Linked DNA regions of Homo sapiens: regions 2 and 3 are each linked to region 1. The links come from fine-mapping of genetic effects on gene expression. A gene starts in region 1. Each other region holds a variant in brackets. All regions are shown on one strand. Distances are between the middles of the regions.

The links. PIP is the estimated chance that this variant, and not a neighbour inherited with it, causes the effect.
Region 2: its variant is the best candidate, but not a certain one, in a credible set for the expression of EEF2K in whole blood (INTERVAL, PIP 0.89).
Region 3: its variant is the best candidate, but not a certain one, in a credible set for the expression of EEF2K in T cells (TOPMed, PIP 0.62).

Annotation. Positions count from the first base shown.
Region 1 is chr16:22,204,421-22,208,616 of GRCh38, forward strand. It overlaps EEF2K (eukaryotic elongation factor 2 kinase), which reads left to right and starts at 1,858. Exons shown (of 18, transcript NM_013302.5): 1 at 1,858-2,259. RefSeq lists silencers at 1,629-1,928, 2,089-2,358.
Region 2 is chr16:22,238,595-22,242,790 of GRCh38, forward strand. The region is part of intron 2 of EEF2K (eukaryotic elongation factor 2 kinase); the gene reads left to right. Among named protein-coding and RNA genes, the nearest start is that of EEF2K, 34 kb to the left of the region's middle. The variant T/A (reference allele first, on the strand shown) is at 2,596.
Region 3 is chr16:22,288,111-22,292,306 of GRCh38, forward strand. It overlaps EEF2K (eukaryotic elongation factor 2 kinase), which reads left to right. Exons shown (of 18, transcript NM_013302.5): 18 at 1-628. Among named protein-coding and RNA genes, the nearest start is that of TRL-AAG2-4, 6.9 kb to the right of the region's middle. The variant GT/G (reference allele first, on the strand shown) is at 2,000.

The sequences.
Region 1 (4,196 bases):
TGATCCTCCTGCCTTGGCCTCCCAAAGCTCTGACATTACATGTGTGAGCCACCTTGCCCGGCCTTGAGTAATTTTATTTTACCGCAGTAGACATCTCCTTGAAGGCAAATGTTTCCCCCAATTCCTAGCACCATATTTGGCACACAATAGGAGCTTAATAAAATTTGCCATAAGAATTAATGCTCAGAAACTCTACTATTACATCCTATCTGCTCAACTCCCTGGAAAAGAGACATTCTCTTTTTATGGTTACTATAAAAGGCCCAGATTAGTATTTCACTGGCCTAACTTGGATCACATGCTCATCCCTGAACCAATCAATGAGGCTGAAGGGATGAAATATGCTAATTGGCCAGGTCTGGTCATGTGTCCATTTTTGGAGCCAGGGGAGTGGGGAGGGCTATTTTCCTGAACTGAAATAGGGTGAACTGGTTCCCTGAAGACTAACCAAGACGCTAATGCAAAGAAGGACACTCCTGCTGGGCAGACAAAAATGACAGAGGCTCAGAGAAGTAAAATAACTTGCCCAAGGGCCATAGAGCTTTAAGCAGTAGCGTCTTTTTTTTTTTTCCAATCTTGCTTTGGGCTTGGACAGACTAGTTCAGCATCTTTGATCTTCCCTTCCTGCCTGACGGCCCCAGGGTCAGAATTCCAGGTGCAATTTTGTCTTGCCAAAAGCTGGAGTTTACTCTCTTTGGGGTTTATAAATAAGGAAAAAAGTTCTTTGGAGAGCCTGAACTTTGAAATCAGAGAAGTCTGGATTTACTGCTGGCTCTGCCTTTTCTAGCTGCCTCACCTGGGGCATGTCATTATCTCTATAAGCCTCAGTTTTGTTCTTTTTTCTTTTTTATTTTTTTGTTTTTGTTTTTTTGCGACGGAGTCTCATTCCTTCACCCAGGCTGGAGTGTAGTGGCGCGATCTCGGCTCACTGCAACCTCTGCCTCCAGGGTTCAAGCGATTCTCGTGCCTCAGCCTCCAGAGTAGCTGGGACTACAGGCGCGCCCGGCTGCTTTTTTGTATTTTTACTAAAGACAGGGTTTTACCGTTTTGGCCAGGCTGGTCTCGAACTCCTGACCTCAGGTGATCTGCCGGCCTCGGCCTCCCAAAGTGCTGGGAAGATGGAATGAGAGAAATCCCTCAAAACATGTCATTGTTACTACTTTTCTATCTAGAATGTGTGAAATTTCTAAAATTTCACTAACAAAGTATCTGGAAGGACCTAATATTAAAGTGTTCACAGTAGCTATTAGTTTTAATTCGTTTTCTTTTTTATACCTTAGCCACTCTACCACTCATGCCACAGGTATTTATTAAGCATCTACTGTGTGCCACCCAGGCCCTGTGTCAAGAGTTAGGAATAACTAAAGGAGATACTAATTTTAAAACTACACAAATAATTGCAATCGTCATACGTGCCTGTTTTTACAAAGCAGAAATCAGGAAAAACAAAGTATTTCCGATAAAAAATATTTTAAGGTTATGGATAGAGATACATACAAACAAGCGATGGGCTTGGATCACTAATGATTTTGGAAAGGACAGGAATACAGGAACTAAGCGAGAAGCAGGCGAGAATGGCGAGGCGCGGCGGGAGAGGACGGAAGTTGGTCACTCCCTCGAATTGCCCCCTCGCTGCCGGATGCTAGGCCAGCCTTGAGCAGGAGAACCGGACACTGTGTACTCAGCAGGGGGAGCCAAGACTTAGCGCTAACCATTGCACCTGGGGCTGGGAGCCAGCGCCGGAGCCAGGAGGCCCGCTAGGCGGCTGCAGGCGCTGTGATGGCCACCTGGGGGCGGCCACGTGAGCGCCACGCCGTGCGCCCGCCAGGCCAGCCCCGCCCCTGCCCGCCCGCTTCTGCTCAACCTAGACCAGCCCCAGCTTCAGCCTCAGCTCCCCTCCTTCCTGGATCGAGCGCCCGCACTCCCGGCCCTGCAGCCACCCGAGTCCCGCTCGCTGTCGCCTGCACGCGAGTCCCCCCTGGCACGCGCTCCCACATCCCGGGATCGTCCCAACGGCCCCTGCGCCCTTCCTGGGATCACTCCGACTGCCCCGCGCGCCCTGGGATCGGTCCATCTACCCCGCGTGGCCCCAGCTGCTTGCCCGGAGCGCCAGCTAGCGCTCCCCGCTCTCCGCTCCCCGGCACTCTCGGGGGGCCCGCCCGCCCTGCACCCTGGAGCTCCGGGCCGCGAGCCTCTGCCAACTCCTCTGGACCCTCGCGGCCGTGGGCAGCGGCTGCCGCGCCTGTCTGCCCGAGGGAGGTAGGTGTGGACCGCGGCCGGCAAGGCTGTGGGGGGCTGGGAGCCCGCGCTGCAGGCCTGTGCGCCCGGGTGCAGCTGGCGTCTGGAGCGTGCTGGGTCTGGGCTTGGGAATGGGGCCGGAGAAGGCATGGAAGGAGAGTGTGGGGGCGCTTCTCCTCTGGTTGTTAAACTCTCTGGGGCTAAGTGCTTGCTTTGGAGAAATGGGGAAGTTGTGCGGATTAAAGGCGATGTGGATATGGAAAGCAATTGGCAAGCAATGGGCGGTGATCTGGCTGCAAGTGACAGAGAGTTTGGGGGCCTCCCCCCTCGGGGCCCCTAGAGTGTGGGCGCATCGCTGCCTTCCTGTCCCCTGCAGGGCTCAGAGCCGCATCCCCCACCTTTCCCCTGAACTAGAGGCCTGCGTCAGCCCGAATTCCCGGAACCTCCAGGACTGTATAGACGCGCCCTTGCTGCATTGTTGGCTGCGGGAGTTTGTTGGCAGGCGCTGCTGACATGTGTGCCAAGGGGCTGGGCATTAATAAGCCGGTGGCCGCGCGGGGGTGGGGGCCTCCCGGGTAAGCCCCGGCCTAGATCCTTTTGCGCGCGCCTGGGGGATTTCGGGGAACCAGCCCAGCTGCGCCCTGAGTGTGACAGATGGGCCGCATGGGGAAGTGAGATCTGCCCAGGGGGACGGTCCCAGGGAGCCCGACCTCTGGGACCTCGGTGGTGGGTGCTTCTTCAGCCAGGAAAGCAGGAAACACTAGGGCTGGAGTCCTGGGTTGGAATTCTAGCTCATTTATGCTCTCTGGCCCTCGGTTTTCTCATCGGTAAAATGGGTACAGTATTAGTATCTACCACTTAGTATCCTTGGAAAGAGTAGATGAGTATGTATATGTCAGGTGCTTGGAACAGTGCCTGGCACACAGTGTCATAGTCTATGGCCCCGGGAGACATCTGATGGCCAAGAGCCCTGTGGTTGAGGGCCCTGGACAGGCTGTGAAGTCACAGCGAATTGAGTCACGTAGTCTATCCTAATGTTTTTAGCGAGGAGGAAACCGAGGGTCAGAGTGATCCCCAGGCCCACAGAAGCTCCCTAAGAGGAAGCCAGTCACATAAACAGATTCTAAAAAGCGAGATGGAGTAAATGGGAATACAGAGCAAGCAGGTGGGAGCTGAGAATGCCCACTGTGTGTGTAAAGGGGAGAGGGTTATGGGGGAAGGCTTCCTGTAGCAAGTGCTGTTTAAGCTGAGCTGGGGAAGAGGCAGGTGGAAGGAGGTAGAGTTCAGAGATGGCGTATGCAGGTGTCTTCCTTCTGTGTGGCCTCCACAGCACCCGATGTTCATTCCTTTGTTCAGCTATTAATTCAACAACTACAGTAAAACCTCTCAAGGACATGAATTTCAGTGTAACATGGCTGGGATTGGCGTCCGCCCTCCTCTCAGCCCCCATTCTCAAAGAAGGGGGTGGGGTCCGAAGTTCTTATCCTCTGCAGGGAATGGGGAGGCCAGAAGACAGAACTGAAGTGGTCACAGTTTACACATAATCATCGGTGTACATTCCAAGAGCTACCGGTGTTTTGGGCCAGGGGCGTGGTGGCTCAGGCCTTTAATCTCAGTACTTTGGGAGACTGAGGAAGGTGGATCACTTGAGGTCAGGAGTTTGAGACCAGCCTGGCCAACATAGGGAGCCCCCATCTCTACTAAAAATACAAAAATTAGCTGGGCATGTTGGCATGAGCCTGTAATCCCAGCTACTCGGGAGGCTGAGGCAGGAGAATCGAGAATCGTTTGAACCCAGGAGGTATAGTTTGCAGGGAGCTGAGATTGCACCACTGCACTCTAGACTGGGCAACAAAGCGAGACTCTGTCTCAAAAAATAAAAAAGATCCACCAATTTGTTTTTCTTGTGCTTTTTGTAACTGTACAGTACTTTTTGGCTGATTACGGATATATCACTG
Region 2 (4,196 bases), 34 kb after region 1:
ATGATCCCACCACTGCACTTCAGCCTAGGCAACAAAGTAATAAATACCTGGTCTCAAAAAAAAAGAAAAAAGGAAAAAAAAAAAAAAAAAAAGCACTGATCATCCTTGGACCAGCTTACCTGGACACACCTGGGTAGGTGATAGGAATGGCTGGGTCAGAAGTCGGTGCAGAAGAAGGTTCATAGCCACTGCCAGGTGGCTCTCAAAGATGGCAGTACCTGCTTCCATTCCCCACCTGATGGTAACATTACTGGTGATTTGTAGCTCCAGCAGGAGTCACCCATAATAAGCACTGCCACCCCAGTGAGCCACTGTTTTTGGTGGGAGTGTGTCTACCCTGGGTGCAGGGGCCACAAAAAAGTGGACCACCAGCAGCCAAAACCTTCTTCATCCTTGTTTGTAAACAAGGAAATGGAGGTTCCCACAGCCAGTCAGTAAGCTGGAACCAGAGTCAGGGACATGAATGTTAGTACAGTACTTTTTATACTGTGCTTATTAAAAAAAAAAAAGTCAGTTGCATTAATCCCACCTGTTGCCAATAAGGTCTGGCATGACTCTGTTCTGGGTTTGGAAAAAAGGTAATTTTTATTCTATGAAATACCACACCCTCTAATTCTGCAGTACTTTCCTCCCTGTTTTGTGGTTGGTGCCACGGCATCCAGCCAGGAGGTAATTTCTGTTGCTAATCTTCACTGAATGGGGACGGTCCCTGTTAGTGGCTTACGGAGTGGCGGAGTCGTTTGAGAGAGGCACTGTCAGAGAATTGTGTGTCGTAGACAGAGAACAGGGCACCTGTACAGACATGCTTGGAAGGGTGGCCTGCTGAATTCTCAACCCTGCAGGCTCTCCTGACAGGTGGAGGTCGAAGGCTGTCCCTGCCATTTGTAGCAGCCGGAATATGAGCTGAGACTGGTGCTTTAAGTTACGGGGATTGGGCTGGGCGTGGTGGCTCATGCCTGTAATCCCAGTGCTTTGGAAGGACAAGGCAGGAGGATCACTTGAGCCCAGAAGTTTGAGAACAGCCTGGGCAACATACCGAGATCCTGTCTGTACAGAAATTTAAAAAATTAGCCAGGCATGATGGCAAGCGCCTGTCATCCCAGCTATTCGGGAAGCTGAAGCAGGAGGATCACTTGAACCCAGGAGTTTGAGGCTGCGGTGAGCTGTGATCATGCCACTGCATTCCAGCCTGAGTGACAGAGCAAGACCCTGTCTCTTTAAGAGAAAAAGTACAGGGGCCAGGCTCATGCCTGTAATCCCAGCACTTTGGGAGGCCGAGGCAGGCGGATCACAAGGTCAAGAGATCGAGACCATCCTGGCCAACATGGTGAAACCCTGTCTCTACTAAAAATACAATAATTAGCTGGGCGTGGTGGCGCAAGCCTGTAGTCCCAGCTGCTCAGGAGGCTGAGGCAGGAGAATCGCTTGAACCCAGGAGGCAGAGGTTGCAGTGAGCCGAGATCATGCCACTTCACTCCAGCCTGGTGACAGAGCCAGACTCCATCTCAAAAAAAAAAAAAAAAAAAAGGTACAGGGACCGAAATTCAGAAAAATGTTTTAGACATACACATGTCTGCTGTGGGGTTATTTACAACAGGGAGCAATCAGTGACAAGCTTGAAGTCTAACAGTGGAGAGCAACAGGTGAATAATCAAGTCAATAACAAAAAAGTTATACAGTAGATTATTATGCAACTATTAAAGCAGGATGCAAATAACTTATAAATTTTATAGTTATCTGATGTACTGTCTGTGCCAAAAGAATTTTAGTGATTTGTTTACTGCTTCTTGGAGTATAACTTGGGATAAATTTTTTGGCAGAGAACTCAGTCATTTCTAGATTTTAAATGTGATCCAGCAGTTACATTTCCCAAAAAATATGTACTACTGAGATCTTGCACAAGCGCCCAAGATTTGGATAGGAAGATGTTCACTTCAGCACTGTTTGTACTAGGAAATGTTGGAGGGAACCCAAACATTATTCAATTGGAGGTTAGGCAAATACCTTAAGGTACATTTATATAATTATATATCTGGTAGTTCTGGAAATGAAAGGAGGTTACCCCAGCCAGTCTGCACATATGACATGGAAAGATGTCCAAGATCTTACATTAAGAAAAGTCAGATGCACAACAGAACATGTGGTGTGGTCCAATTGCTCTTTCTTTTTATTTTGTTTTATTTTTATTTTTTTGAGATGGAGTCTCACTGTGTCGCCCAGGCTGGAGTGTAGTTGTGCTCTCTTGCCTCACTGCAACCTCCGCCTCCTGGGTTCAAGCGATTCTCCTGCCTCAGCCTCCCAAGTAGCTGGGATTACAGGCTCGTGCCACCATGCCCGGCTAATTTTTGTATTTTTAGTAGTGACAGGGTTTTACCATGTTGGCCAGGCTGGTATCAAACTCCTGACCTTGTGATCTGCCTGCCTCAGCCTCCCAAAGTGCTGGGATTACAGGTGTGAGCCACCGCGCCCGGCCTAAACTGCTCTTAAATATGTGTTTATGTTCACAGAGGCATAGGAAAAAATTTTGCAGAATGTCTACATCAACTGTCAGCTGTGGTTTTCAGAGGAAGTGGATTAGGGAGGACTTCCGCTTTC[T/A]AATTCAGAGTTCTATAGTGCTTGCAGTTTTTATGTGATGTGGATCATACTTTGGAATCAGAAAAAAAAATTGAGATCACTAAATAAAGCACAAAATCCCATTGACCCACTCTTCTGTAAGGAGGTGAATTATATTTTATGGTATGATACCAATCTTATTAAAAAATGCATGTAGGCCGGGCAAGGTGGCCACGCCTGTAATCCCAGCACTTTGGGAGGCCAAGGCGGGTGGATCACCTGAGGTCAGGAGTTCGAGACTAGCCTGGCCAACATGGTGAAACCCCGTCTCTACTAAAAATACAAAAATTAGCCAGGCATGTTGGCTCACGCCTGTAATCCCAGCTACTCAGGAGGCTGAGGCAGGAAAATTGCTTGAACCCAGGAGGTTGCAGTGAGCTGAGATCACCCCACTGCACTTTAGCCTGGGTGACAGAGGGAGACTGTCTCAAAAAAAAAAAAAAAAAAAAAAAAAACATATAGAAGATCTGGAAAAGAATTAGTCTACGGCATTGCTCCAGTGGATGGTATATGGTGGATTTGACTTTTGTCTTCTGTATTCTCCAACTTTTAAATTAAGTCTAAATTAGCTACCAAAATAGAAGAAAAGAATTACAGGCTTTATTTTTTGAACTCTGCAGAGGTAAAAAAGCCCCAGCAGGCTAGGTGCAGCAGCTCATCTCTGTAATCCTAGTTCCTTGGGAGGTTGAGGCAGGAGGATCACTTGAGGCCAGGAGTTCGAGACCAGCCTGGGCAACAAACGTAGTGCAACCCGGTCTCTGCAAAATAAAAATAAAAATAAAAAAATTAGCTGGGCATGGTGACACACAAGTGTAGTCCCAGCTACTCAGGAGGCTGAGGCAGGAAGATCGCTTGAGCCCAGGAGTTTTGAGGTTGCAGAGAGCTATGATCACACTACCACCACGTAGCCTGGACAACAGAGAGAGACCTTATTCCTATTTAAAAAACAAAACAAAAACCCAAAAACAAAAGAAAGCCCTAGAGAGAGTGAGAGGCCTGGGCTCTGTGTGTGTGTATTGGAAGGCCCAGCTCCACTGCCTGAGCTGCTTCTATTTTGAGCAGGACCCAGTGCTGGGGATGAGGTGAAGCCCTGTTTGGGCTGAGTCCTTGGGAAGCTGGACTCTTTTTTTTGGGTACAGAGTCTTGCTCTGTCACCCAGGCTGGAGTGCAGTGGCCTGATCTCCATTCACTGCAACCTCCACCTCCTGGTTCAAGCGATTTTCCTGCCTCAGCCTCCCGAGTATCTGGGATTACACGTATGCACCCAGCTTTTTTTTTTTTTAAAGTAGAGACGGGGTTTCACCACGTTGGCCAGGCTGGTCTCGAGCTCCTGACCTTGGATGATCCATCTGCCTCGGCCTCCCAAAGTGCTGGGATTACAGGCGTGAGCCACCATGCCTGGCTACTCTCAATAGGTTTTGATAGATTTGGGAGTTCTTTTGGGCCATCATAATGATGGGGTGGTGGGCACTGCTGGCATAGAGTTAGGGAAGGCCGGGAATGCCAGCAACCCTGAAACAGGGCTGTTCTGCACGATGAATTTTCCTGCATCCCACAAGATCTTGGAACAGCTCATGGGAATC
Region 3 (4,196 bases), 84 kb after region 1:
TCCCGAGTAGCTGGGACTACAGGCACCTGCCACCACGCGCAGCTAATGTTTGTATTTTTAGTAGAGACGGGGGTTTCACCATGTTGGCCAGGCTGGTTTCAAACTCCTGACATTAGGTGATCCACCTGCCTCGGCCTCCCAAAGTGCTGGGATTACAGGCATGAGCCACCGTGCCAAGCCACGCCTGGCTAATTTTTTAAAATTATTTTTTGCAGAGACAGAGTTTCACTATGTTGCCCAGGCTGGTCTTGAACTCCTTGGCCTCAAGTGATCCTCCCACCTCAGCCTCCCAAAGCATTGGGGTTACAGGCGTGAGCCACTGCACCTGGCCCTGTTTTCATGGCTTTTATTTCCTTTCATCCCACACATTTGTCTGCAGTACTAGACATGTTTTACAAATCAACAAGTTTACACAAGTATATGCAGCTTGTTTTGGGGGGAAAGGAGACAAAATATGCATATTTTCTGTGTGGATTTGTGCCTCTTAATTGTGTTTCTAGTCTCTAAGGTGACCCTTTAACCTACTCAAGATGGGGCCCAGAGAAGTGGCCTGCGTTACAGATTTATTTTGGCATATGTACTAAGTTCCATTTTCTCTTTACAAATAAAGTGTTTTCTTTCTTTTCTGTCTCAGACTCAAATGTCTCCTGGTTTGGAAAAAAAAAAAAAATGGCCAGGCGTGGTGCCTCACGCCTGTAATCCCAGCACTTTGGGAGGCCGAGGCGGGCGGGATCACCTGAGGTCAAGAGTTCCAGACCAGCCTGGCCAACATGATGAAACCCTGTCTGTACTAAAAATACAAAAATTGGCCGGGCATGGTGGCGCACACCTGTAGTCCCATCTGCTCAGGAGGCTGAGACAGGAGAATTGCTTAAAGCCGGAAGATGGAGGTTGCAGTGAGCCCAGATCCTGTCATTGCACCCCAGCCTGGGCAACAAGAGCGAAACTCCATCTCAAAAAAAAAAGGTGGGGGATCGGGTGCGGTGGCTCACGCCTGTAATCCCAGCACTTTGGGAGGCTGAGGCAGGCGGATCACAAGGTCAGTAGATCGAGACCATCCTGACTGACATGGTGAAACCCCGTCTCTACTAAAAATACATTAAAAAAAAAAAAAAAAAAAAGCTGGGCGTGGTGGCAGGCGCCTGTAGTCCCAGCTACTCGAGAGGCTGAGGCAGGAGAAAGGCGTGAACCCGGGAGGTGGAGCTTGCAGTGAGCTGAGATCACGCCGCTGCACTCCAGCCTCGGCGACAGAGCAAGACTGTCTCAAATAAATAAATAAATAAATAAATAAATAAATAAAGCTGCTGCAGGCAGGGGTCAACGAGAAGGCTCATACCCCATCTGAAAGGGGCAGCCATGATTCAACTTCAAATGATTGCCACCATGGGAAGCGCGGGCTCAATGTTACCCTATTTTCCAATTTTTCAAGAGCTGCTGAAAACTTTTTTTTTTTTAATGCAAGGCCTTCTGTTCTTTAACATTTGTAATAAATTCTAATAACTTTTCAAAGCCTTCCAGATTTGGCTCGTCTGCTGTCAGTTTGCTTTAGAGAAAGTATTAGAACCTCTCGTTTCTTCATTTGCTCATCTATAAAACATAGAGTTTTTCTGTTTGTTTTTCAGACAGTCTCACTCTGTTGCCCAGGCTAGAGTGCAGTGGCAAGATCTTGGCTCACTGCAGCCTCTGCCTCCGAGGTTCAAGTTATCCTCCCACCTCAGCCTCCTCACGAGTAGCTGGGACTACAGGTGAGCACCACCGCGCCCGGCTAATTTTGAAGGGGGGCAGGTTGTGTTTCATCTTGTTTTTTCCTTTCTTCCAGTGGAGACAGGGTTTTGCCATCATGCCCAGGCTGGTCTCGAACTCCTGGGCTCAAGCAATGCACCGGCCTTGGCCTCCCAAACTGCTGGAATTGCAGGCGTGAGCCACCGTGCCCGGCCTGAAGAATAATTTTTACCATTACAGAGTTGTAAGCTTCAGAGAAGATAATACATGGTAAAGT[GT/G]TTTTTTTTATTTTTATTTATTTATTTTAAGATGGGGTCTCATTCTGTCACCCGGGCTGGAGTGCAGTGGTGCGATCTCAACTCACTGCAACCTCCGCCTCCCGGGTTCAAGCGATTCTCCCGCCTCGACCTCCCTAGTAGCTGGCATGGCAGTACAGGCGCACACCACCATGCCTGGCTAATTTCTGTATTTTTAGTAGAGGCAGGGTTTCACCATGTTGGCCAGGCTGGTATCAAACTCCTGGCTTCAGGTGATCTACTCACCTTGGCCTCCCAAAGTGCTGGGATTACAGGTGTGAGCCACCACGCCCAGCCTAAAGTGCTTTTTTAATTCCAAGCTTAAGAAAATCTTGGTTACCAGTTGATCTTTTGGTTTTAAGCTAATTTTTTTTAATTTTAAGAAATTTGAACATTAGTATAACTATGCATGGTAGGTTGAACATACATATTTAGGTCCACTTGTTCCTAAATCCCCACTGCAATGACAGGAAGTGGATTCTTTTGTTTGTTTTTTTGTTTGTTTGTTTGTTTTTAAATAGCATAAGCCGGTGAGGATGAAGAGAAAGAGGATTGAACAGCAAGTTTTGGGTGCTGGAAAGTAGGTAGACTGTAATTGAATTAACAGACCCAAGAAGTCTGGATCCTAGATCAGCAGTAGAGAAATCTGAGAAAAACCCAATTTTCATTGCTGAACAAGTCCTGCAAGGCTGAGAAATTGGCACGAGGAGGCCTGGCACCGTGGCTCACACCTGTAATCCCAGCACTTTGGGAGGCTGTGGTGGGCAGATCACTTGAGGTCAGGAGTTAGAGCCCAGCCTGGCCAACATGGTGAAACACCATCTCTACTAAAAATATAAAAATTAGCCAGGCTGAGGCGGGAGAATCACTTGAGCCCAGGAGGCAGAGGTTGCAGTCAGCCGAGATCACACCACTGTACTCCAGCCTGGGTGACAGAATGAGACTCCATTTCAAAAAAAAAAAAAAAGATTAGAGAGAAGTTAATAAAGAAAACTTTTCTGTTGGTTTTGTTACAGCATACGTCAAAATTTTATTACAGTCTTGACCGGGCGTGGTGGCTCACACCTGTAACCCTGGCACTTTGGGAGGCCAAGATGGGAGGATTGCTTGAGGCCAGGAGTTCAAGACCATCCTGGTCAACACAGTGAAAGCCCATATCTTAAAAAAAAAAAATCACAGTCTTGCTGCAAGTGTAAACCCACTGGGAATTCAAAGATTTATACTTGGTAGGGACATTTTCTAAAAATTTATTTTTTATTACAGTCTGCCTATGTAGATTAAACTGCACGCTCTTAAGTATACAGGTTGATGAATTTTTACATTTGTACACATCTGTGTCTTAACAACCCAATTCAAGATATTAGAACATTTGCAGGCCTACAGAAGCCCCCCTGGACCCCTTCCCAGGCAATACACCCTCTCTCCACCCCGAAAAATGTTGGCCACTCTTCTGACCTCTATCTTGATAGAGACATTTTCTAGGAGAAGAAAATGATTAGATAATCACTGTTAGACAAAATAGAAAAGAAAAGAATGTTCCGTTAAAGGTCACTGCACTCTTGACTGACAAATGACCATCAACTGAGTGAGTAGAAAGCTAGTTTCCCAGTGTAAATCTCAATGCTCTTAAATTTCAAAAGAAAAATGCTCAATGCTCGAGCATTTATCAGAAATGCTAGTTTCTTTCCAGAAGGAGGTTCTTACAGAAAGATATGGTCTCAGGCCAGGTTTGAGAGCATTTTCCTTTTATGGGAGCAAGGGAGGAAAGAATGGAGGGGATCCAGGACTGAGACCCCACACCCATTTCCACTATCCACAGCCTAGTGTTTATGATATAGGGACAGGCACACAAAGAATAGTCGGAGTTTCAGCCCATCCCTCCCTTGTCAGGCATCCCGCTGCTGAGACCTTGTAGGTCCAGGGGTTCTGATGCAACATTCTGCATCTCTTGCTCATTGATTTCATGTCTGATTGTCATGAGAAAACTGTGTAAGGGGCTGCTGGACTGTAAGAAACTCTCAAAAGGGTGCTGTGCCTTCCAGGATCAGCTGTTTCCCTGCAGGCTTCCTCTTAATTAAGCATCCTGCTCAGTATGTGTTTGTAGAAAGAGACAAGTTGCTCCAGAATGTTCTAGCAGAAATATCTCAGCCTTAGGAGTTCAAGACCGGTCCTGGCAAC